4 linked regions of the Homo sapiens genome follow. The protein of the gene in region 4 purifies or fractionates together with the protein of the main gene of each other region. This does not show direct contact. Each region holds a gene or a part of one and is shown on either strand. Other genes may lie near its edges.

Region 1 (5,510 bases), on a different chromosome or scaffold from region 4:
GGTGACAGACTAAGACCCTGTCTCCGAGAAAAAAAAAAAAAAAAAAAAAGATTAAAATGGCCCCTGCACAAGGATGACATGCAAATTCATCAAGCATTCCATATAAGAAAAATTCCTTTCACATACTATGATCAGTAGCGCTTAACTGAAATTACTGAAAATTACTTTCCCCTCAAGCATTCATTATACCCCCATTACTACCCCTCCTATAGTAGAGCTTCAAGCCAATACTAGCCTTTTCTGTAAGCAACATGAATATTGTTCAGATTTTCCAGGTACAAATCAGTAGACAAAACTTAATTTGTATAAAGGATTTTAGTGCATACAAACTGTCATCAAATAAGGTGCTTTTTAACCAGGTTAAATTTTATGATCATCCCTTTAATTCACTATTTACCAACCTCTTTCCTGCCAGGGCACACAGGAAATGAAACATTTTGCTGGATAAGCCACAGATGAAGGTACTAGTGGTGGAACTGGCTCATGGATACAGATTGCTGTGCAAAGCTCTATGCATTTACTGTTTTAATAATTACTCCAATAAAAGGATTTTTAAAAAGAGATCTTTTAACACATCCACTTACACAAGTGAGTTATATACACACAAAAACTAACTGGAAATACTTCTTCACATTTTCACTGTAACCATTTACTTGTCAAGGGAAGGCAAAATGAATATTCAAAGTCAAGGCTAAAGCTACAGTGTTAAACTCAAAGAAGGATGCAATTTAAGTGCTCTCTTGTATAAAGCATCAGAAAGTTAATACAAGTACTAGTCTTAAGCAGTCACACAAGTCTAAGCCACATTTATTTGCACATGTATAGTAATGGCCAACAGATACTCCAAGTTCATACAAATTTGTAAAACAACAAAGTTAATAATCACTTGGTACACTTGTGTGTTATCTTGCTTACATATTAAAACCTAGATGAACTTCCTTCATTTTGTGGACTTCCATACAATACTTCCTTAAACAAAATTCTTGAAAACACATATCAGCATGTTTAAGTTAGAGCCAACACAAAGTTAAGACAAGACACAAACTCAAAAACCAAGTTTGAAAGATACTTTTCTACCTCCCTCCCCTAGAAAGAAGTGATTTTCTTTAACAGATGTATGTTATATCACACAAGTAACCATGAAGACAAAAGAATGACGCTCCCATCATCAGGAAGAAAATGCCAACCAGATCATACTGTTTAGTTATCTACCGAACATATGGTTAAAATATGAGAAACGGGGGAAAATGCTTAGATTAAAATAACAAGGGAGAATAGAAAATAGCAAATGATTTTAAAGAGAACTGTTCCCCCTCAAAGCTGCAAAGCTCTGACTCTGACAACTAAAAACTGTCCAAGGCAAATAAAAACGAGGAAACCTTCAAAAACATTCTAATCACGTGCAGTATCTAGTGTTAAAAGCTGAAAATGATAAAGAGGATATTTATTATACAAGTGTCAACGAGGACATCCCAAAAATAATGAAATAAACACACATTTATTTCTACAAAAGCAATGTATGATACAGAATTAGAAGGGAACAGACTTAAAGATTTGCCTATTAAAATATACAGATTCTTACTGAAGAGTATAGGATATTTAAAAAAGATGACAAGGGATGTTAATCTTTTTTTATTATTATCATTTTTACATATTTTGGAACCTCACATAATTTTGATAAATAACTCTTACAAAATTATGCAAAAAGTACAAGAATGTCTGGTAAACAAACAGTCTGTATTTTCCAAAAAGATTTTTTACAACATGCAATTCTTAAGGCAGCATCCTCTTTACAAGGAAAGGTAATCCTTTTTTATCAAGAAATCTTCTGCTGCAAAGAATGGCTAAGAAAGCCTGGCTTCTTCCATTAACGCCTTTTGTCTTTCCTGTCTGATTTTCGGTCTCTTTCACTTCTTGAAGATCTTTTGCCTGATCGACTACTCTCTGATATAGACCTCTTTCTGTCGGACCGGGAATTCTTATCCTTTGATCCTTTTGTATCTCTACTACTACCACCTTTTGAAGATTTGTGACTTCTTTCTAGTCCTGAAGTATCCCTTCTCTTCCGATCCACGCTCCTTCTGTGCTTTCTATCTCTATTATGTCCCCGGCCCCTACTCCGACTTCTACTCTCACTACTACTACTAGTGCTACTGCTACTATCTCTGCTGCTGCTGCCACTTGTACTGGAGCTGCTACTGGAACTACTGCGACTGCTACTACTTCCACTGCTGGAACTACTTCCACTGCTGCTACTGGTTGAACTGCTACTAGAACTGCTACTGCTACTGCTTCGACTTCTACTCTTGCTTGTTTTATTTCTAGCTCGACCTCTACTTCTGCTCCTAGTTTTGGTTTTGCTCTTGCTCTCTGGATGTACTGTCAAGACTGGCTCTACTGGTACCTCAGTGAGTTTTACAGACTCTACAGGAAAATCCTTCCTCTCAGGTAGTAAATGCCCTTGCTCCTGAGTAACTTGGGGTGTTGGCTGTAAAACAGCTAATGACAAATCCTCAGGCTGAGAGGGAGGCTGGGACTGGAGTACTGGTTGGGACTGGGATTGAAGCTGAAGCTGGGGCTGAGACTGAGGCTGAGGTTGAGCCACAGGCTCAGGTTGGGGCTCAGATTCTTTTTCTTCTTTTTCCTCAGACTCCTTTTCCATGTCTAAAGCACTGACATTCTCTTTCCCAGGAGAAAGGGTTTTACATTCTTTATCTGGCTCAATTTCAAATTCCATTTCTGGTTCCAATTCTTTGCTAGCTTCATTTTCTGAAGGTTCTACACTTTCAACTCGATTAGTTTCCATTACCTCCTGGTCAGCAATTACATGTTTGACATTCTCAACCATCTCTAGCACATCCATAACTTCTTCAGGCTGACTATCCTGCTGCTTCTCACTTTCCCTTACCTCAGTTTCCTCCTCCATCTTAACCTCCATTTCCTGTTTTTGTTCTTCCTCCTCCTGTTCTTTCTCTGCATCACTATGAACAATCGCTATTTCCTTTTCCTCTTCCTCTCCTGCTTCCTCTATTTCTACATCATTGTGCTGATTACCTGTCTCCTCCAACTCTTCCTCTCGCTGAGCCACCTTACCCTCTTCTTGTTCCGCCTTCTGTTCTTCATTACGCACCACCTGATGCTCTTTTTCCTTCATTGATTGTCTTCTAGGCCTAGCCTCCATTTTATTTATTTGTTCTGCAAATTCGATGCGTCTACCTTCAAATAAAGCTAAAGAATAAAAATTTACATGTGTAAAATTTACCGATTAAGAAAATTCAAAGCCATAATTTTATAACTGGTCACAAATTGTCATTAAGCTTCATCTGAATTTGTTTTTGTAAAGTTATGACAAAAGATTATGGCAATTAAGTAACCACAAACTGACATAAAATTATAAAAGCAAAGATCCATGGGAAATCTACATACTAGAAATTGTGGCAGACAGAACTACACATTTTCTAACTGATGAAGAAAACAGATCAATCTTTATGTCTGATGAAAAATAAAACTTCTGTAAAACAGAACCAGTTTTGGCATAAAATCATATATATTAATTTTTCTGATCCCAAAGAGATAAATCATCATCTTAGCAGTGTCTATCCTTCCATGTGTTTTCCATCTAGAAACTGAGTTGGTTTTCACATTTGTCTTATTAGCATTTTATCAGAACAATAATAGCATGCAAAAAAAAGTAATTTTACACAAATGCTTAAGGAATACAGATGCATAAGCACTGTCTATAACTTTCACATTAAACTCCATCATGATACAAATATTCCTATACTACAAACTCACCAGCATCTCAGAATGTATCTTTTTTTTTTTTTTTGAGATGGAGTCTAGCTCTGTTGCCCAGGCTGGAGTTCAGTGGCGTAATCTCGGCTCACTGCAACTTCTGCCTCCCAGGTTCAAGTGATTCTCCTGCCTCAGCCTGCCAAGTAGCTGGAATTACAGGTGCCCACCACCATGCCCAGCTAATTTTTTTTGTATTTTTAGTAGAGACTAGAGACGGGGTTTCACCATGTTAGCCGGGATGGTCTCGATCTCCTGACCTCATGATCTGCCTGCCTCAGCCTCCCAAAGTGCTGGGATTACAGGCGTGAGCCACCACGCCCGGCCTAGAATATCTTATTATCTTATTTAAAAAAAAAAAGCAAACACAGCAAACCAATCACTGAATCATAATTATTTTAGAAAACAAACGTGTGCATATGAACATATTACCTTACCCACTATGAACAATTCAATGGACCTCTTCGCATACTTACCGTTCATTTTTCTCTGTGACTCTTCTATTAGTTTTTGGGTAGCTGGACACATTCTTCCAGGAATATAAAACAAATGGGGCTTTGTCTTAGTTCTTATATATTTAATTATTTTGGCATTATGTTCATTCCATTCTTCTTGCTAAAGAAAAGGTAAAGGGTCAGTGCTTTTGTAAACACAAAGGATTACCAATCTTAGAATTCCAAATTACCACTCACCAGCTGCGCAAGCTCAACTTTCTGTTCCAAAAGCCGCAGTTCTGTCTGTTTAGCACGCCTCTCTTCAAACAGTTCTCTCCTTTCATTTTCAACCTGCTTTCTCTCTTCTTCTGCCTGAACTTCAAGTTTTTGTTCAATTTCCTGGCGCCGCTTTTGCTAAAAGTTAAGTAGCCTGCTTTAATACTTACGTGTTGAAATAGTTACAACAAAAGGTATATATGATTTCAGTTCAATTATGATAAAAAGTTATTACACATACTAATTACGTGAAACATTAGAGGCAGGTAGATCATCTGAAGTCAGAAGCCAACACCACCATCTCTACTAAAAACACAAAAAAATTAACAGGGCGTGGTTGCACGCACCTATAATCCCAGCTACTTGGGAGGCCGAAGCAGGAGAAATCACTTGAACCCCAGAGGCGGAGGTTGCAGTGAGCTGAGATCACGCCACTACACTCCAGCCTGAGCAAGAAGAGCCAAACTCCATCTCAAAAAAAATTTTTTTTTTTTTTTTTTTTTTCACTATGTAAAGGTATCTGCAGGCCGGGCACAGTGGCTCACACCTGTCATCCCAGCACTCTGGGAGGCTGAGGTGGGTGGATTGCTTTGAGCTCAGACCAGCCTGGGCAACATGATAAAACCCCATCTCTACAAAAAAAAAGAAAAAGAAAAAAAAAAGGTATCTGCATATGCTTCACATTTTTTCTTTTTTTGAGATGGAGTTTTGCGCCTGTTGCCCAGGCTGGGGTACAATAGTGTGATCTTGGCTCATTGCAACCTCACCTCCAGGGTTCAAGTGATTCTCTTGCCTCCGCCTCCCAAATAGCTGGGGATTACAGGCGCATGCCACCACAGGCGGCTAATTTTGTATTTTTAGTAAAGACAGGGTTTCACCATGTTGGCCAGGCTGGTCTCGAAAAACTTCTGACCTCAGGTGATCCACCTGCCTCAGCCTCCCAAAGTGCTGGGATTACAGGCATGAGCCACTGCACCTGGCCGCTTCACATTTTCAATTCAGGATACC
Region 2 (7,043 bases), on a different chromosome or scaffold from region 4:
AAAAGCATTTTAAGCCATAACTTATTTCAAATGAATAGGAAAAATAATGACTTTTGCTTACATCATGCAGCAATAAGCATTCATTTGTTATTCAGAAGAAAATTGTATGCAGTGTGTTTATAGTTAACATCTTGAGGCAAATGTTCACTTAAATTCACAATGTCTCCATTGGCCTTTCACCAAAAGAGAAATATACTTTAAAAGCTTACTTCAATTTGCTCATTAAGTATGATTTAGCCTTTTCTACCATATTATATTTGGTAACTACATTTGGAAGAATATCACACAAAGCTTCTTAAAACATTGGTAAACATTTTGAGATGTCTTTATCAAGCAACCGTATCAGCAGAGAAAAGATAAACTCTTAAGACTTTCTTTTTTGCCCCAAATTATGTGTCAGAAAGGAAAATATATCCCACTTCTCTCCTTGTAGACATCACAAGATTCTTTTGCATTAAATGTGGAGCAAAAAAGTAAAGCTGGATAAAAGAGACACAATGATTCTAAGGCACCCTTAGCATAGGGAATTTCAAAATAGACATTTACAGTTGGCTGCTTACAACATAGTTTAACTTTTTTTGGTGAGAATCACTCTGACATCTGTTAACAGCATAAAAAGGCTGACTTTCTTTTCCATAAGTATGTTGTTTCCAACTAGTTTCCAGTCTTTCTTCCATGCCCAAAGTTCAGGCAAGCCTAGGTAATCCTGTCTTAGCCAATGGACAGGATGTATTTGGAAATGACAAAAATGGGTTTAAATTAGGAAGCAAAGTACTTTGTTATAGCTGAAATGGTTTTAAATGAAGCAAATGGTTGTAAATAATGAATGACAGAACATCTATTTTGGGACATTATGGCTTAAAATGCTATTTACTTTTAACTTCACAAATAAACACAGCTGTATTGTTTTGAAAAGCAATGAAAGGCATGCACCTCTACTAGCAGATTTAGCACTTCTGACCAAGTAAGACACCAACTTCTTTAAAAATATGCTTCATGCACTGTACTGGATTTTTTTAAGATGTAAATTTTAATACATTATTTCTTTTTTGAACTTGAACGGGAACCAGAATGGGATGATCCAGATGATGACCTGTGGCGTCTGTAAGACATAATGGAGAGAGTAGGCATTCTAGTAAGCTAGAGCTAAATCTCAGCATTCATTCTTAAGACTGTGAAAGTATACAAAATTCAGTACCATGATGCTAGCAAAAAAATTAAAAATTGAGATAGGAACTTACACACATAAAATTATCTGATGTTTAGACTTTGGATATGAGCCCAGTTATCATATAAATACAATAAAAAATTCTCTACAATTTCAAAAGAATCTCATTTCAAAATATAGCCACCTCTCAATTATTTAAGATATCAAAGAAAAGCCTTGCAAAAATGTGTAAAATTACAGAAAATGTACAACAAAAGCATATAAACTTGGTAATGGAAGTGTGACTAAACCAATCCCTGTGACACGGTGTAGAAAGTGTAAGAAGTCTATTATGTAAAAAAGATACAGCAAGGCTTCTGTGTATGAGAAAATATACTCATAAATAAGTTTTGGAAATCTAGGTCACACAAGATGATTGTACAATTTGCTATAGGGTTATATTCATGCAGCTAGTATGAATAAGTCAATATCAACCTGGGTAAAGTAGTGGTGTTCCGTAGGGGTTGGCCCTGGGCTCAGGGTTGTTTAGTGTTTTCACCAATCACCTGGCTTATGGAATAGAGAACATGTTCATTAAGTTTAGATGACAACAAACTAGGGGGATTATATGTGGCTAAGATAAAAATTTGCAGAAGTGGTAAGAAAGCAACAGAATGAATTCCACTCAAAAACAGAGTAATTTTTTTTACAAAGAAACAAATGCAGAGAAACAAGACTGTGTGAAATCTTAACATCTAAACTCCAAAATGTGAAGAAGCAAAACTAATCATTCTGTACAAGTAGGAATCATGAGATAATCCTACCACTGAACCCAGCAATTAATAGACTTTACATAATCTTTATTTTCACAAGCTAATAAAATATGAAAAATTTGCAAAGACTACAAATAAAGCCATTAAAATGACTATATAATTGGGAACAAAGAGAAAATTAATGAAACTGAGTAATTAGCCTGTTGCAGAAAAGGCTGACAGATGACAGTTGCATTCTTCCAATATTAAAAGTGTCAGTACAGATAAAGTAACCTAATATAGGCCTTTCTCAAAAAAGATTTGGACTGCAAAATGAAAAATGTATTAGCTACAAGGAATAATTTCCTTATAGACAAAGGGCATGAAGCAATTTGCTGTGGAAATGCATTTACACATATTTAAATGAGGACAGATTCCCAATGATCTGAAAGTTAATTTTTTATTAGATGCTCTAGAATTCTTGACTATTAGTATTTAAAGAAGCCTAAGTATAAAAGTCAACTCATAAATTACTTCGACATACAGCTTCTGAATTGCAATCTCAAAAGACAGAAATAACCGAGAGTTGGCTATAAAAATTATAAATGGAACTAAAAATTTAAACAATAAAATGATCAAAGAATGGTTTGATCTACAATTCTAAACAACCTGATCAAAGTACAAAGGATAAGCAAAGTAATGTTTTTTTGAAGTTCAAAGTTGAAAAGTAGAAAGTCGGAACACAAGAGATAATAAAAATCTAACCCTTGACTAGGAAAGTTTACTTTATCTATTAAACACACTTAAGAACACCCATTCTTATTTCTACAGAAACCCAAACCTTTCGGGTGACCGTGATCTTGTTCGTCTTTTTTTGCGATCACCAGATGAAGAAGATCTAGAACGACTTCTCTTTCTGTTCCTCTCAGGAGAAGATGATGAACTTGAATAAGATCTTTTTCGTGGGGAAGAAGAGCCCCTGTGGGACCTGGAGCTGGATCTTCATTGATTGAGAAACAAATCAAACATTTCATTAAAAGAAGAAATAAGGAAGATTATTTAGTTATCAGATAGCTCCAAAAATAAACAGGATTTATAACAACTATGAAAATTTTATAAGGAAGAATACTTACTGCTTATTCAACAGAAGACTTCTGGATCAACCATGAAAACATTCTACTTAAACATTTTAATTTTGTCTCTTTAAAATTCTATCATGTGTAATTAAAACCCTGCTTACTATATCAAAATAGAATTTAAACTTTTTTTAAGGCTTTTCAAAGTATACACAAATATTATAGTATTATAAAATCAGCAGATAACTGCATTAACAGGACTTTACGTTTAGGAACTACATCCTTCCATTTGAGGATTAAAATATGTATCTTATATACCACTTCCTGAGGAAAATAAACATAATTCCATGTGGAATTATTCAACTCATTAAACTGTTATGGAAAAACCAGGTATATGGCACAGCAACAAAAGACTAGTAACTGTACTTAACTGCTAAATATTCAAGAAGAAATAAAAACTAACTTTAAGATGATTTATATTTACAATACTATTTTTATGAAAACCCACTACTTATGAAATATGAAGTGTTGACATTCACATGCTTCAGGTAGAAGTAAATGTGCAAATGTTTAAATACAAATTTTTTTTCTTCACTTGTATATTTTGGTTGAAGGAATTTAGCTCAAACTTCCCAAAAAATTCACCTTTGGGCTTAAAATAAAACCAGAAAGCCCAAAAGGAGAATTCTTTGGAAAGTTACAAGCAATGAAAAAATGTTTGGGAAGAATATGATGGGTGTTCTGTAAACCTTAATTATAATGGTTCCCAAAGGGAATACCAGAACTTAAGGATTTTTACCTATAAAGCGCTTAAATATTGTTACTAAATAATGGTAACAATAAAAAATAATTTGCTCTCTACTTCTATTTTTTTTTTTTTTTTTGAGACAGGATCTTGCTCTGTTCCCCAGGCTGTGGTGCAGTAGCATAAGCATGGCTCACTGCACCCTTAATCTCCAGGGCTCCAGTGATCCTTCCACCTCAGCCTATAAGAACACACCACCATGCCTGGCTGGTTGTTTTAATTTTTATTTTTAGTAGACGAGGTCTCACTATATTGCCCAGGCTGGTCTTGAACTCCTGGGCTCAAGCAGCCCGCCCACCTTGGCCTCCCAAGGTATTGGGATTACAGGCGTGAGCCACTGAGCCTGGCCTTGTTATCTATTTCTTATTGGCTTATAATGCAAGTGTGCACAACATTCTTTTCTCCTTAACATGATTATACTGTGGCAGCCCTTTAATGCTAAATTTGATTCAAAGCAGCAAATACTTTTACCAAAACAGCCACAGTTAGACTTCAATATGAATTTCCACAAATATGGAATTTCATTTTCTTATTTATTTTTTAGATGCCTTTAGGTCATAATAAATTAACTTAAAAACAAAGAGAGCATATTTTGACTAAACAAAGAAAAATTTCCTGCAAGAGCATCTTTCAAATTATGTTTCCCTCTACAGATGTGACTACATGCAACCTGAAACTTTAGAACACTGTTTACTACTTAAGACCACATCCTATCTCAACTAACCGACTATACTTCCTGATTTAGTTTTGAGTGTTTTGTGCTCTATAAATAATAGCGTGTGTAAAATTAGAAAGGAAAATGTATATACAGTACTCTAGTAACTTTATCTGATATAAATGGCAAATTTGTTTCTGAAAATATTGAAACAACTGCCGTGCAAAACAGGACCTGTTTTGAGGCAGGGTTATTTTTCTTCCTTTTAATAATGAAGAAAATTTTTCTTTTTATTTACATATGTAATTTTATTTGAACTACTATTAATTTTTTTTTTTTTTGAGACACTCCTCTGTCACCCAGGCTGGATTACAGTGCTGTGATCAAGGTTCACTACAACCTTGAACTCCTGGCCTCAAGTGATCCTCCCACCTCAGCTTCCCAAAGTGCTGGGATTATAGGCATGAATCACTGTGCCTGGCCATATATAATCTTAATATACTAGAGATGTGGCGATAAGACTTGGCTTCATCTTCCTACTTCATAACATCTTAGTGCCAAAATAATAAACGCTGCATATTGCAAAATAGCCACCTGATTTCAATCATGGGAATGTCTTGGCACACTGCTGGCAATGGAAACATTTCATGGTGAGAAAATTAAGCTGAGGCAAGTGCATTAGTTTTCTAATGCTAAAATAAAATCGACAAGTAGAAGCAAAATAAGGGGAAAAAAAGCAGCAACACCTTCTGCAGCCTTTAAATATTTTTCTCTCTGCTTTACAGAGAGATGCTACCTCATTCACCTTGATTTCGACCCACGAGATCTCGAACGTTCTCTGGAACTGGAACGAGATCTTGACTGCGAACTGGAAGAACTTCTTGAACGGGACCTGGAACAACATGGAACGATTTTTTTTTTCCAGGACCATTTAATTGAGCTTTGTGATATGAACACTGAAAGAAAGATATGTATTAGAGTTCATTTTCATATAAAAAGATAACTATACAAGATATATACTTTCAAAACATAGTATTTTAAATTAGATAAGATTTAGTAACAAAAGGTAATTAAAAAAATATCACTTTCCAGGTGATTAAATTACCCTAAAGCCACTCAACTATAAAACAAAACATTATCACTTTATTACAAAAACAATGAATACTTTGTTTACAAGTAACTAGAAGCTACCCAGAATACATCCAAGAAAACAGAATGTTGCGATTTATACTTAATTTCTCTAAAATGTCTCCATCATTTTCCTTTATAAATCCCCTTCTATTTTTGTTTCTAGTTAGTACAAAGTTTTGAATGTTGGCATGTGTGTATTTCATCCCTATATTTTTCTGTTTACTCAATGCTTAGAGAATTAAAGGGAAAATGTATAATTCTGTCATTGTTAGGTAATTATATTATTGGAAAATATGACACAAGGGAGACATGGTTCGTACAAATTTTAAAACTCACAAAATTCATTAATCTAATTTACAACTATAATTTGTCCCTTATAATAATACCCTGTAGAAAAAGATCACTATATTTTTACCAAAAAATTACTAGTTATAGCCCCACTTTGTTAAGCTTTCAGGCTTTGTAGTGCTCAATTAACATATATCTAATTGTTATACACTAATATCTAGTATTTTATTCCTAAATATGATTAAAATTCATTGCCCATGCCATCACTTAACTGTGATTAAGGTTTTTCAAGAGGACACTGTTAAATTTAAATCACTGCTTTCACTCACCTAAAATTTTATTTTTATTGTTAACTATAAAATCAGAGATTACATATTTTACATCAACAAACAATATTCAAGTACACCAAAAGAGTTTTAGTTTACGCCTGGACTTCTCAAAATTATGAGCATGAAGTCAACAGAACTAATATGGCTGAATTTGCTCCGTTATTCACAATACTGATATCAAAGCAAACTATTAAAAACATTATGTAATAAGCAATGATTTAATGCCTAGAAAATTTCTGTGCTAGCCTTTAACATCTTGAATGAAAATACAGATCTCCCCTTTACTTAATTTCTATATGTAAGCTATCTCTTTAGATTAATTAAATATAAGTGTATATAAAAATTTAATTCAGTTTTTAAGTCTATTTTAGTCAAAAGCATGAGGCTAAAATAGGTTAAGGAAGTTTCATGCTAAGACTTTACTTTTCTAAAAATACTGGACAACAACTGTATGGTACTAAGCTGAAAAATTATTTTAAAAGTTGATTTGAATTAAATTTTTAAAATAAAAAGGAAAGTTTATTTCGTCAAGAAAAACAAAATTTATAAATAAAAAAGTTAGATACTGACATTTTGACTGGTGTTACCCTTGACCTGTACCCGTTTACCTGGACCTAGACCTTGAACTTGAGGGGGAGGATGAGCGTGATGAAGATCGTGAATGTGAAGATCGAGACTTTGAGCGACTTCGTCTATTAGATTTCTTTTTATTACTATCTTCTTCTTCACTGGCATCAAGATTATATTTTGAGAGATCAGCGTCATCTTCATCCTCATCCTAACAAAAATTCAATTATAATTAGACATTTAGATATTAGTGTTACCTACCAGGAAAGATAAAACAGTTAGGTGTACTGAGC
Region 3 (3,003 bases), on a different chromosome or scaffold from region 4:
GTGGCGGAATCAAGGTTTGCCTCAGTGTCCTGTGCTCAACAGATCCTCCTGCCTCAGCCTTCTTAGTAGTAGCTGGGACTACAGGCATGTGTCACCATGCCCAGCCCCATGGGTCTTTGTTTTCTGCTAGTAACTTCAAAAGGGGACATGCAGTGTAACTCACCTGAGTCCCAAGTTAAGGCTATGGTAGCAGCTGAGCAGACAAGACAGCTTTTCCTAAATAAATGAATGCAGAATGGGGACCCCTCCCTCCTCCCCATGGGAGATGGGCAGCTCAGACACTCAGAAGGTTGTGTGGGAGCGAGCAAACAAACACCCATGCACACCTGGGTCCCGTCAGTCAGATGCAGGGGACAGGAAGTGCCCTGCCATCTACTGGATGCCAGAAGACAAGACGTGACCCACGAGTAAGTCACGGTTTCTGTGAGGTGCTGGTGGCACTGGCACAGGGTCACAGTGAAAAGCCTCTACGCAGAGGACAGCAGAAACCCCCCGCAGCCTCAGGAGGCAGCATCAGATTTATTTATTCCTACTCAACATGACCCGGGAACACAGGAGCAACTCTGTACACTTCTAGAAACTCACAGCTAGCTCCAAAACAATAGAAATTTTAAACTACAAAAGATGAGTTGTATTCAGCAAATATAAAGGGTAATTTTAGACTGTGTGAACGTTTATCAGACTATTTACAGCACCCGGGAGACGGGTTCAGATCTCGCCGGCCTCCTTCTCTTCTGACCTCCGTGAAGCCATCTTCCCGTTGGAGCTCTCAAGCCTCCAGTCCGGGGGCCCTCGCTCGCTCCGCCCGCTCTCCCAGGACTCCTCTCTGGATGCCCGCTCTCTGGAGAACCTGGGAAATGGGAACCAGAGGCTCAGTGGAGGCTGCTGCCCCCCTTCTGCTGGCCGCTCAGGCACTGACGATGGACCCGCAGACCAGGCCAGGCAAGGCCCTACATCCCCTATACCTGGAAACCCCCCGGAGGCCAACCAGACTTGCCCACCACATATGGAGTGTTAGATAGCCATTAAAAAGTGACCTTTGCGAAGATTTTTAATAAGGAGAGCCTTCACTGTAACATAAACAGTGCAAAGGAGAATACAACACTATATGCACAGAACATGACACTACGTAAAAACACAATGGAAAAAAAAATATCAAAAACAAAAACCAAAACAGAGGTAAGCAGGGCCTGGTCAGGACACAAGTCTCAGCCACTCTGAGCATGGACGCAACAGTGCACAGGCCCCAGGACGCAGGCAGGGGACAGTGCCTGTGCAGCCCATCACCTGGCGCCGTGCGAGCTCCTCCACAGCCCTCTCGCCTCTTCCCACACCTGAGTCCCGTTCACGACTCCCCAGCCCTACTCCTGAGGGTGAGCCCAGCCCCATCCCCACCAGACACGGCCCTCAGCAGACCCTGGGAACACAGAGAAGGGCTCACTCCTGGTTGCAGCTACCGAAGGAGTCAGAGTAGTTACTTGTATTTCGCACTTCGGTCCCGGGAAGCCCGACGATGTCCCCGGCTGTGGCTCCGGGAACGGCTGCGGTGGCGCCGATGTCTATCTCGGGACCGGGACCGGGACAATTTCCGTCGCTCTCGGGAGGTAGATCTTGACCGCCTCCGACGCCGATCCCGGGAGCGTGACCTGAACAATCAGAAGGCTCCAAGGCTGAGACTCTATAGGTGCCAACACTATGAGGGCCCCACCCCTCAGCAGATTCTGCTTGCTGCTTTACTGACATTTTCTCCTTTACTCCCACAAATTTAGGTTTAAAATATTTCCATCAGTTAATCTCCAATGGCTAGGTCCTTCCAATGAGGTCTCCTGAAAACATGTGGCCTGGATACTCCTGTCACCCTGCAGGCCCCGACCTTCCCTCTCATTAACACTGGGAACCCTCCACGGCACCAAGCAACCTCTTGCCCTGTGCCCTTCACAAGCCAGCCCTACCTGCCAGGTAACATTTGTAAAGGCATAATCATTAAATATTAAGAAAAATGCTTATGGAAAAAAAAATTTGAGAACATTTTAATGGACCTGGAAACCTACCTCCTGCGATCTCTGGTTCTTGATCCCGACCTAAAAGGGGGAAAAAAAGATGAACAAGGCCAGGCATGGTGGCTCACACCTGTAATCCCAGCACTTCGGGGAGGCCTAGGCAGGCAATCACCTGAGGTCACGAGCTGGAGACCAGCCTGGACAACGTGGTGAAACCCCGTCTCTACTGAGAACACAAAACCTGGCCAGGCGTGGTGGCGGGTGCCTGTAATCCCAGCTACTCAGGAGACTGAGGCAGGAAAATCACTTTAACCTAGGAGGCAGAGGTTGCAGTGAGCTGAGATTGTGCCACTGCACTCCAGCCTGGGCAACAAGAATAAAACTTTGTCTCAAAAAGAAAAAAAAAAAGTGAATGACTTCCCGAAAGCACCCCTATTCCTCACCCTCTTGGGGGAGGACTCCAAATTTAAGAAGTGAGGCACCTCCCCCAAAGACCTGCTGTTTTCAAGCTGCCTGCATGTTCCCAGTCTGAATGGGAAGTGCCAATGCTCCCATCCCCACAGCCACTCTGTGGCACACTCAGTGTCACCTGAGCCTCACAGACAGGCCCACATCCGAGCATCAGACGCAGCCCTGTAACATTACAAGGGCCGTGAAAAGTCTGTGCACACTGACTGTGCTGCACTCAAGTCCTACAAATGATTCTCCAGTCTTTACAACAGACACCAGCACAGAATGTGCAGACAGCGAGTGGGGCACACCAAAAACACAGAAAAGGAAAAGCAAAGCCCGAAGTTCCAGGCACAGGCTTCCTGTCAGGTGAGAGTCATCAGCTCATTCTGCCACACAACCAAGAGGCTGAAAAAGGCAAGCTATGAGGCCTCATTCTATGCCCGTAAGCCATTAAGGTCAAGTGGCCCCATGTACATCCGCAACACAAATGGCCTAAACATGACAGTGCATGTAAAAATGTAAACTCCATGCAAAAAATGGATTGTGTGTT
Region 4 (7,043 bases):
GGCTGTTGGTGGGAGAGCAGGGAGCAGAAGTTAGCTGGGACTCCCACTCCTCGGCAGAGCTGCCATCTTGAATCCTGCTGGTCACTCGCTCCCTTGGTCTTAAAGCAATGGAAGGGTGGCTCACATGGATGCCTCCTGGGTATTAGGAAATAACCATCACTGATAAATACAGACTGATAGTTTACCACATGCATGGTAAGTGTGGTAGTTTAAAATATTCTCGGCCAGGCGCGGTGGCTCACGCCTGTAATCCCAGCACTTTGGGAGTCCGAGGCGGGCGGATCACGAGGTCAGGAGATCAAGACCATCCTGGCTAACATGGTGAAATCCCATCTCTACTAAAAAATACAAAAAATTAGCCAGGCCTGGTGGCGGGCGCCTGCAGTCCCAGCTACTCGGCAGGCTGAGGCAGGAGAATGATGTGAACCCGGGAGGTGGAGCTTGTAGTAAGCCGAGATCGTGCCACTGCACTCCAGCCTAGGTGACAGAGCAAGACTCCGTCTCAAAAAAAAAAAAAAAAAAATTCTTACTTGTGTCTCCACAAACTATTTCAGCGTCCTAGAAGTTCTACCATGCCAACTGACATTTTCTGACCTGCCTCCAGCCACCAAGGCAGTGCCCAAATTCTTTGACTATGTATTCCACTTTTCACTTAAAAATATTGTCACTATATAAATCCCTTATTTTCTCACCTGAAACCATATATCAGACTGGGAAAATATCTGAATGCTCTACTCTGGGCCATTAATAAATACACAAATATGTAATACTTATCTTTTATTATCACTTATCAATAAACTGAGTAAAATAAATGTTTTCAGGGGAATTTCTCTCAGCCAGCCTTACCAGGGGATGATGGGAGAGGGGTGGGGAGGTGAACCGGCAACAACTATGGCCGGCGGCAGAGCAAGCTCTTTCCAAATGACTGCTGACCTAGGGCAGGGGAAAGGGAGTGGAGTGTGACAGAGGGTCTCACCCATGGGCTGAGAGAAAACAGGAGAGGAACCGACGTTCCTGAACTCCCCTTTTCTTCAGTCCCAACCTTGCTGCATCTGGCCCAAGGTTAGCTGAGTGCCATGCTACTTCCTTCACTGCCAACCCAGGCATCCTGGCCAGGCCCACCTGCTGTGGCCACCAACCACCTCTTTCACTTGGGGGATAGAAGAAGGGGAGGGAGGCAGCCTTCCTTCCTGTGGACCTACTTTCTTTCCCCGGGGTAAGAGGAAATGGGCTAGCAGTCCTTAAATCTTTATTTGGTAGTGCTGGAAAGTACTGTTTACCTGGCAGAAAGCTGGAATAGGGGAAGGCAAGGCCAGGAAGGCAAGAAGACAGAATGGCCCAGGTGTGGCTGGCGAAGGCCCACCATCCCTACCCAAATCACATCAGGGTTGGTGGGGGGGGGCACTTCTCCCTAGTGCTGCTGTGACCTGTCACAGACCCTCTCAACTTGTCCCACCCAGAAAGTACCTGGTCCTGTCTCTCATTCGCTTGTTCCCCACCTGAGCTCAGGTGGTGAGCATGGTGAGTGCTCAGGCTTGCATGGGAGGTTTACATTCATAGGTTTTAAGGAGTAGGGCCTCCAACTATAAAAACATAATATTAAACAGCCACTACAACTGAGGCATGTGTTTGAAAAAAGCTGGCTACAAAACTGTAGAGAGGATCAGATGTGGCCAGGCACGGTGGCTCACGCCTGTAATCCCAGCACTTTGGGAGGCTGGGGGGGGGGGACAATGGATCACAAGGTCAGGAGTTCAATACCAGCCTGGCCAAGATGGTGAAAACCCGTCTTTACTAAAACAAACAAACAAAATATATATATAATTATATTTTATATTATATATAAAATTAGCCAGGCGTGGTGGCTGACGCCTGTAATCCCAGCTACTTGGGAGGTTGAGGCAGAGAACTGCTTGAACCTGGGAGGCGGAGGTTGCAGTGAGCCGAGATCGCGCCTCTGCATTCCAGCCTGGGTGACAGGGTGAGACTCTATCTCAAAAAAAAAAAAAAAAAAAAAAAAGAGAGAGAGAGAGAGGATCAGATAATAACTGTCTAAAACAAGAGACCAAATCCTATGGTTGGAAAAAAAGAGGCCGGGCGTGGTGGCTCATGGCCTGTAATCCCAGCACTTTGGGAGGCTGAGGCGGGTGGATCACCTGAGGTCAGGAGTTCGAGACCAGCCTGGCCAACATGGTGAAATCCTGTCTCTACTAAAAATACAAAAATTAGCCAGGCGTGGTAGCATGTGCCTGTAATCCCAGCTACTTGGGAGGCTGAGTCAGGAGAATCACTTGAACCTGGAAGGCAGAGGTTGCAGTGAGCTGAGATCATGCCAGTGCACTCCAGCCTGGGCAACAGAGGGAGACTCCCATCTCAAAAAAAAAAAAAAAAAAAGAAAAAAAATAGACTGGCAAAAAATATGTAAAAATTCTAGCCTATGGGTGGTGGGGCTGTAGGTGGCTTTTCCCCCAATTTTATTTGACATTTTAATGTGAAAGGGATATAATTAAGTTGAAATTTTCTTTTTAAAGAAGGACGAACAAATTTGATAACTATTAACAGTGTACTGTGATCCCTTCCAGTCCCACCTTGGTGTACCTAAAAGCATACATATGACACATTTATTTGGAGATATGTAACCATACTACAAATATTGCTTGGCAACTTGCTTCTTTCATTTAACATCTCATTTATATTTTTCCACAGGAATATATACAGTCTACCTCATACTTTTTGACGACTTTATAATTAGTGTTCCACTGTGTGTACAAAACAAATCTCCTTACCCCAATATCGATAGACTTTGTTTCAAAAAATGTTCAGCCTCATGAGTATCTTACAGTCTTTCTGTGGGGGTAGATTTTCATAAGTGGAATTTCTGAGTCAAAGGACATGCGCAATTTGGTCAAACTGCTCTCAATAAGTTTGTGCCAATATACAAGTGTGCCTATGTCTTCCTTTACCAAAATTGAATATCATCAACCCTTTTAATTTTGCCAGTTGGATAGATTAAAAAATTATTTTATTAACAATGTTTTTTTCTTTTTCATGTCTTTTGGCTATTTGTATTTTTTGTGAATGAATTGCTCATATTCTTTATCCACTTTTTCTTTGGAAATTATATATATTGATATGAGGGTTCTATATACTGTATGTGTTATACATATTGCAAACATTTTCTTCTATCTATCTTTAAAAAAGCTTTTTTTTTCTTTTTGAGACAAGGTCTCACCCTGTTGCCCAGGCTGCAGTGCGGTGGCATGATCTTGCTCACTGCAAACTCTGCCCCACCTGGGCTCAAGCGATCCTCCCACCTCAGCCTCCTGAGTAACTGGGACTACAGGACGACAGCCACGTACCACCACGCCTGGCTAATTTTGTATTTTTTGTACAGACCAGGTCTCACTGTGTTGTTCAGGCTGGTCTTGAACTCCTGGCTCAAGTGATCTGCCTACCTTGGCATCCCAAAGTGTGGGATTACAGGTGTGAGCTATCGCACCCGGCCTAAAATTTTCATGTAGTTAAATCTATATCAATATATTATTTTCTGACTTTTTATTTCACTTCACTCTTAGGAAGGCTCTATTTTAAGATTATAAAACATTCTCTGCATTTTCTTCTACTACTTTAGATGTATACTCATTTTTATTTTTAGAAATTAAAAAACTCGGCCAGGCGCGGTGGCTCATGCCTGTAATCCCAGCACTCTGGGAGCCCAAGGTGGGTGGATCATGAGGTCAGGAGTTCAAGACCAGTCTGGCCAAGATGGTGAAACCCCGTCTCCACTAAAAATACAAAAATTAGCCTGACGTGGTGGCGGATGCCTGTAATCCCAGCTACTTGGGAGGCTGAGGCAGAGAACTGCTTGAACCCGGGAGGCAGAGGTTGCAGTGAGCCAAGATTGCGCGACTGGACTCCAGCCTGGGTGACAGAGTGAGACTCTGTCTCAACAACAACAAAAAAGAAATTAAAAAACTCTCAAAAATACAAAGTATAATACAATACACAACCCCATTCCTACCACAGGGTTTGTTAATGTACTGTCATGTTTGTAGTATAATTTATTTTAAGGAAATAAAATCATCACAGATAAAGGTAGTTTACCGTGATACCGCCTTCCAAGTTTCATTCCTCCCCAGGCCATCTGTCCCATGAATTTGGTGTGTACCTTCCTGTCATATTCAGGTATTTAATCTGCTGGAATTTACTTTTTGATTAGGTGTGAGGTGGGACTCTTGTTTTTCCCTAGATGAGCCAAATGTTCCAATATTATTTATAAAATAGTTCACCTGGTCAGGCACAGTGGCTCATGCCTGTAATCCCAGCACTTTGGGAAGCTGAGGTGGGTGGATCACCTCAGGTCAGGACAGGAGTTTAAGACCAGCCTGGCCAACACGGTGAAACCCCCATCTCTACAAAAATACAAAAATTAGCTGGGCATGATGGCAGGTGCCCAGCTACTCAGGAGGCTGAGGCAGGAGAATTGCTTGAACCCGGGAGGCGGAGGTTGTAGCAAGCTGAGATTGCGCCATTGCACTCCAGCCTGGGTGACACAGCGAGACTCTGTCTCGGAAAAAAAAAAAAAAAAAAGTTCACCTTTCTCCAGTATTAGAAATGCCCCCTTTAGGCCTGGCGCGGTGGCTCACGCCTCTAATCCCAGCATTTTGGGAGGCCGAGGCGGGCGGATCATGAGGTCAGGAGTTCGAGACCAGCCTGGCCAACACAGTGAAACCCTGTCTCTACTAAAAATACAAAAAATTAGCTGGGCGTGGTGGCGGGCGCCTGTAATCCCAGCTACTTGGGAGGCTGAGGCAGGAGAATGGCTTGAACCTGGGAAGCGGAGCTTGCAGTGAGCCGAGATCACACTACTGCACTCCAGCTTGGGCGACAGAATGAGACTCCATCCCCCACTTCGCCAAAAAAAAAAAAAAAAAAAAAAAAAAAGAAATGCCGCCTTTATAGCGATTTACCAGATCAACCGTTCTCAATGCTCTTTAATACGCTGGAGTTTCATACTAAGAAAAATAAACATAAAAACATTTTGGCCAGGCGCTGTGGCTCACGCCTGTAATCCCAACACTTTGGGAGGCTGAGGTGAGCAGATCACAAGGTCAAGAGATCGAGACCATCCTGGCTAACATGGTGAAACCCCGTGTCTACTAAAAATACAAAAAATTAGCCAGGCGTGGTGGCATACGCCTACAGTCCCTACGCCTATAGTCCCAGCTACTTGGGAGGCTGAGGCAGGAGAATCTCTTGAACCTGGGAGGTGGAGGTTGCAGTGAGCCGAGATTGTGCCACTGCACTCCAGCCTGGGCGACAGAATGAGACTCCTTTTCAAACAAAACAAAACAAAACAAAACAGAAAACAAAAACAAAACCAAAAGACATTCTGTGGGATGGGCACGGTGGCTCATGCCTATAATCCCAACATTTTGGGAGGCTGAGGTGGGTGGATCACTTGAGGTCAGGAGTTTGAGACCAGCCTGGCCAACATGTTGAAACCCCATCTCTACTAAAAACACAAAAATTAGGTCGGGCATGGTGGCTCATGCCTGTAATCCCAGCACTTTGGGAGGCCGAGGCAGGTGGATCATCTAAGGTCAGGAGTTCGAGAGCAGTCTGGCCAACATGGTGAAACCCCATCTCTATTAAAAATACAAAAGTTAGTCGGGCATGGTGGCAGGCTCCTGTAGTCCCGGCTACTCAGGAGGCTGAGGAAGGAGAATCACTTGAACCCAGGAGGCGGAGGTGGCAGTGAGTCAAGATACTGCCACTGCACTCCAGCCTGGGGAACAGAGGGAGACTCCGTCTCAAAAATAAATAAACAAATAAAAATTTAAAAATTAATAAATAAAAATAAAAAAATTAGCTGGGCATGGTGGTGTGTGCCTGTAATCTCAGCTACTTGGGAGGCTGAAGCAGGAGAATCGCTTGAACCCAGGAAGCAGAAGTTATAGTGAGCCGAGATCATGCCACTGCACTCCAGCCTGGGCGACAAAGCAAGACTCCGTCTCAAAAGGAAAAGAAAAAGGAAGCTGGAAGCTGAATGAGATGGGCCTTTCAACCAAGGAGTTAGAAGGCCATCTGGTGGCAGGGCTGGCAGAGGACCAGGAGTAAATAAGGCCAGAGAGGACACCAGGGTCTGGGAGTGAAGGCACTGAGCTTGGGTCCCCCTTTGGAAGACAATGACCTGAGAGCTGTGAGATTTCAGACAAGTTCCCGAACCTTTTGGGCCCTGCTTTCCTCATCTGTAAATGGGATAATATCAGTCTCACCAGCTTCTTAAAATTCAATACAATGGAGTTGGGTGTGGTGGCTCACGCCTCTAGTCCCGGCACTTTGGGAAGCCGAGGTGGGCAGACTGTTTGAACTCAGGAGATGCAGAACAGCCTGGATAACATAGCAAAACAGTCTCTACCAAAAATACAAACAATTAGCTGGGCATGGTGGTGTGTGCTTGTAGTCCCAGCTACTAGGGAGGCTGAGGTGGGAGGACTGCTTGAGCCCACGAGGTAGAGGCTGCAGTGAGCCATGATTGCACCACTGCACTCCAGGCTGGGAGACAGAATGAGACCCTGTCTCAAAACAAACAAGCAAACAAACAATAAAGGAAATCCCTACCACACTATCAGGGGCATTTTGGCTGAGCGCGGTGGCTCACGCCTGTAATCCCAGCACTTTGGGAGGCTAGGCTGGCAGGTCACCTGAGGTCGGGAGTTTGAGACCAGCCTGACCAACACGGAGAAACCGTCTCTACCAAAAATACAAAATTAGCCGGGCGTGATGGTGCATGCCTGTAATCCCAGCTACTTGGGAGGCTGAGGCAGGAGAATCTCTTGAACCCAGGAGGCAGAGGTTGAGGTGGGCTGAAATCGCGCCATTGCACTCTAGCCTGGGCAACAACAGGGAAACTCCATCTCAAAAAAACAAAACAAAACAAAAAACAAAACTCCCATTTTTGCGAGGCAAATTGGGCTCACAGAGGTAAGCTGCATGTCCCTGTTGATGGCAGAGCTGGGGTCTGGATGCAGGTCTGCTTC

The links.
Region 1: the proteins of NFKBIL1 (region 4) and PNN purify together in Homo sapiens (affinity purification with mass spectrometry; 2 studies listed by BioGRID and IntAct, with this or other methods). This does not show direct contact.
Region 2: the proteins of NFKBIL1 (region 4) and ZRANB2 purify together in Homo sapiens (affinity purification with mass spectrometry; 3 studies listed by BioGRID and IntAct, with this or other methods). This does not show direct contact.
Region 3: the proteins of NFKBIL1 (region 4) and LUC7L purify together in Homo sapiens (affinity purification with mass spectrometry; 4 studies listed by BioGRID and IntAct, with this or other methods). This does not show direct contact.

The regions. Positions count from the first base shown.
Region 1 is NC_000014.9:39,178,221-39,183,730, reverse strand, and holds the end of PNN (pinin), read right to left. Parts: intron 4,641-5,510; coding exon 4,485-4,640; intron 4,408-4,484; coding exon 4,269-4,407; intron 3,229-4,268; coding exon 1,868-3,228; 3' UTR 511-1,867; downstream 1-510. UniProt on the Homo sapiens protein: Transcriptional activator binding to the E-box 1 core sequence of the E-cadherin promoter gene; the core-binding sequence is 5'CAGGTG-3'. Capable of reversing CTBP1-mediated transcription repression.
Region 2 is NC_000001.11:71,064,036-71,071,078, forward strand, and holds part of ZRANB2 (zinc finger Ran-binding domain-containing protein 2), read right to left. Parts: intron 6,962-7,043; coding exon 6,792-6,961; intron 5,328-6,791; coding exon 5,241-5,327; intron 3,682-5,240; exon of another isoform or gene 3,596-3,681; intron 3,150-3,595; exon of another isoform or gene 2,900-3,149; coding exon 2,741-2,899; exon of another isoform or gene 2,731-2,740; intron 1,718-2,730; coding exon of another isoform or gene 1,684-1,717; exon of another isoform or gene 1,103-1,683; coding exon 1,039-1,102; 3' UTR 1-1,038. UniProt on the Homo sapiens protein: Splice factor required for alternative splicing of TRA2B/SFRS10 transcripts. Binds to ssRNA containing the consensus sequence 5'-AGGUAA-3'. May interfere with constitutive 5'-splice site selection.
Region 3 is NC_000016.10:188,490-191,492, forward strand, and holds the end of LUC7L (putative RNA-binding protein Luc7-like 1), read right to left. Parts: intron 2,082-3,003; coding exon 2,052-2,081; intron 1,647-2,051; coding exon 1,479-1,646; coding exon of another isoform or gene 1,475-1,478; exon of another isoform or gene 851-1,474; coding exon 709-850; 3' UTR 501-708; downstream 1-500. UniProt on the Homo sapiens protein: May bind to RNA via its Arg/Ser-rich domain.
Region 4 is NC_000006.12:31,550,587-31,557,629, reverse strand, and holds part of NFKBIL1 (NF-kappa-B inhibitor-like protein 1), read right to left. Parts: intron 3-7,043; coding exon 1-2. UniProt on the Homo sapiens protein: Involved in the regulation of innate immune response. Acts as negative regulator of Toll-like receptor and interferon-regulatory factor (IRF) signaling pathways.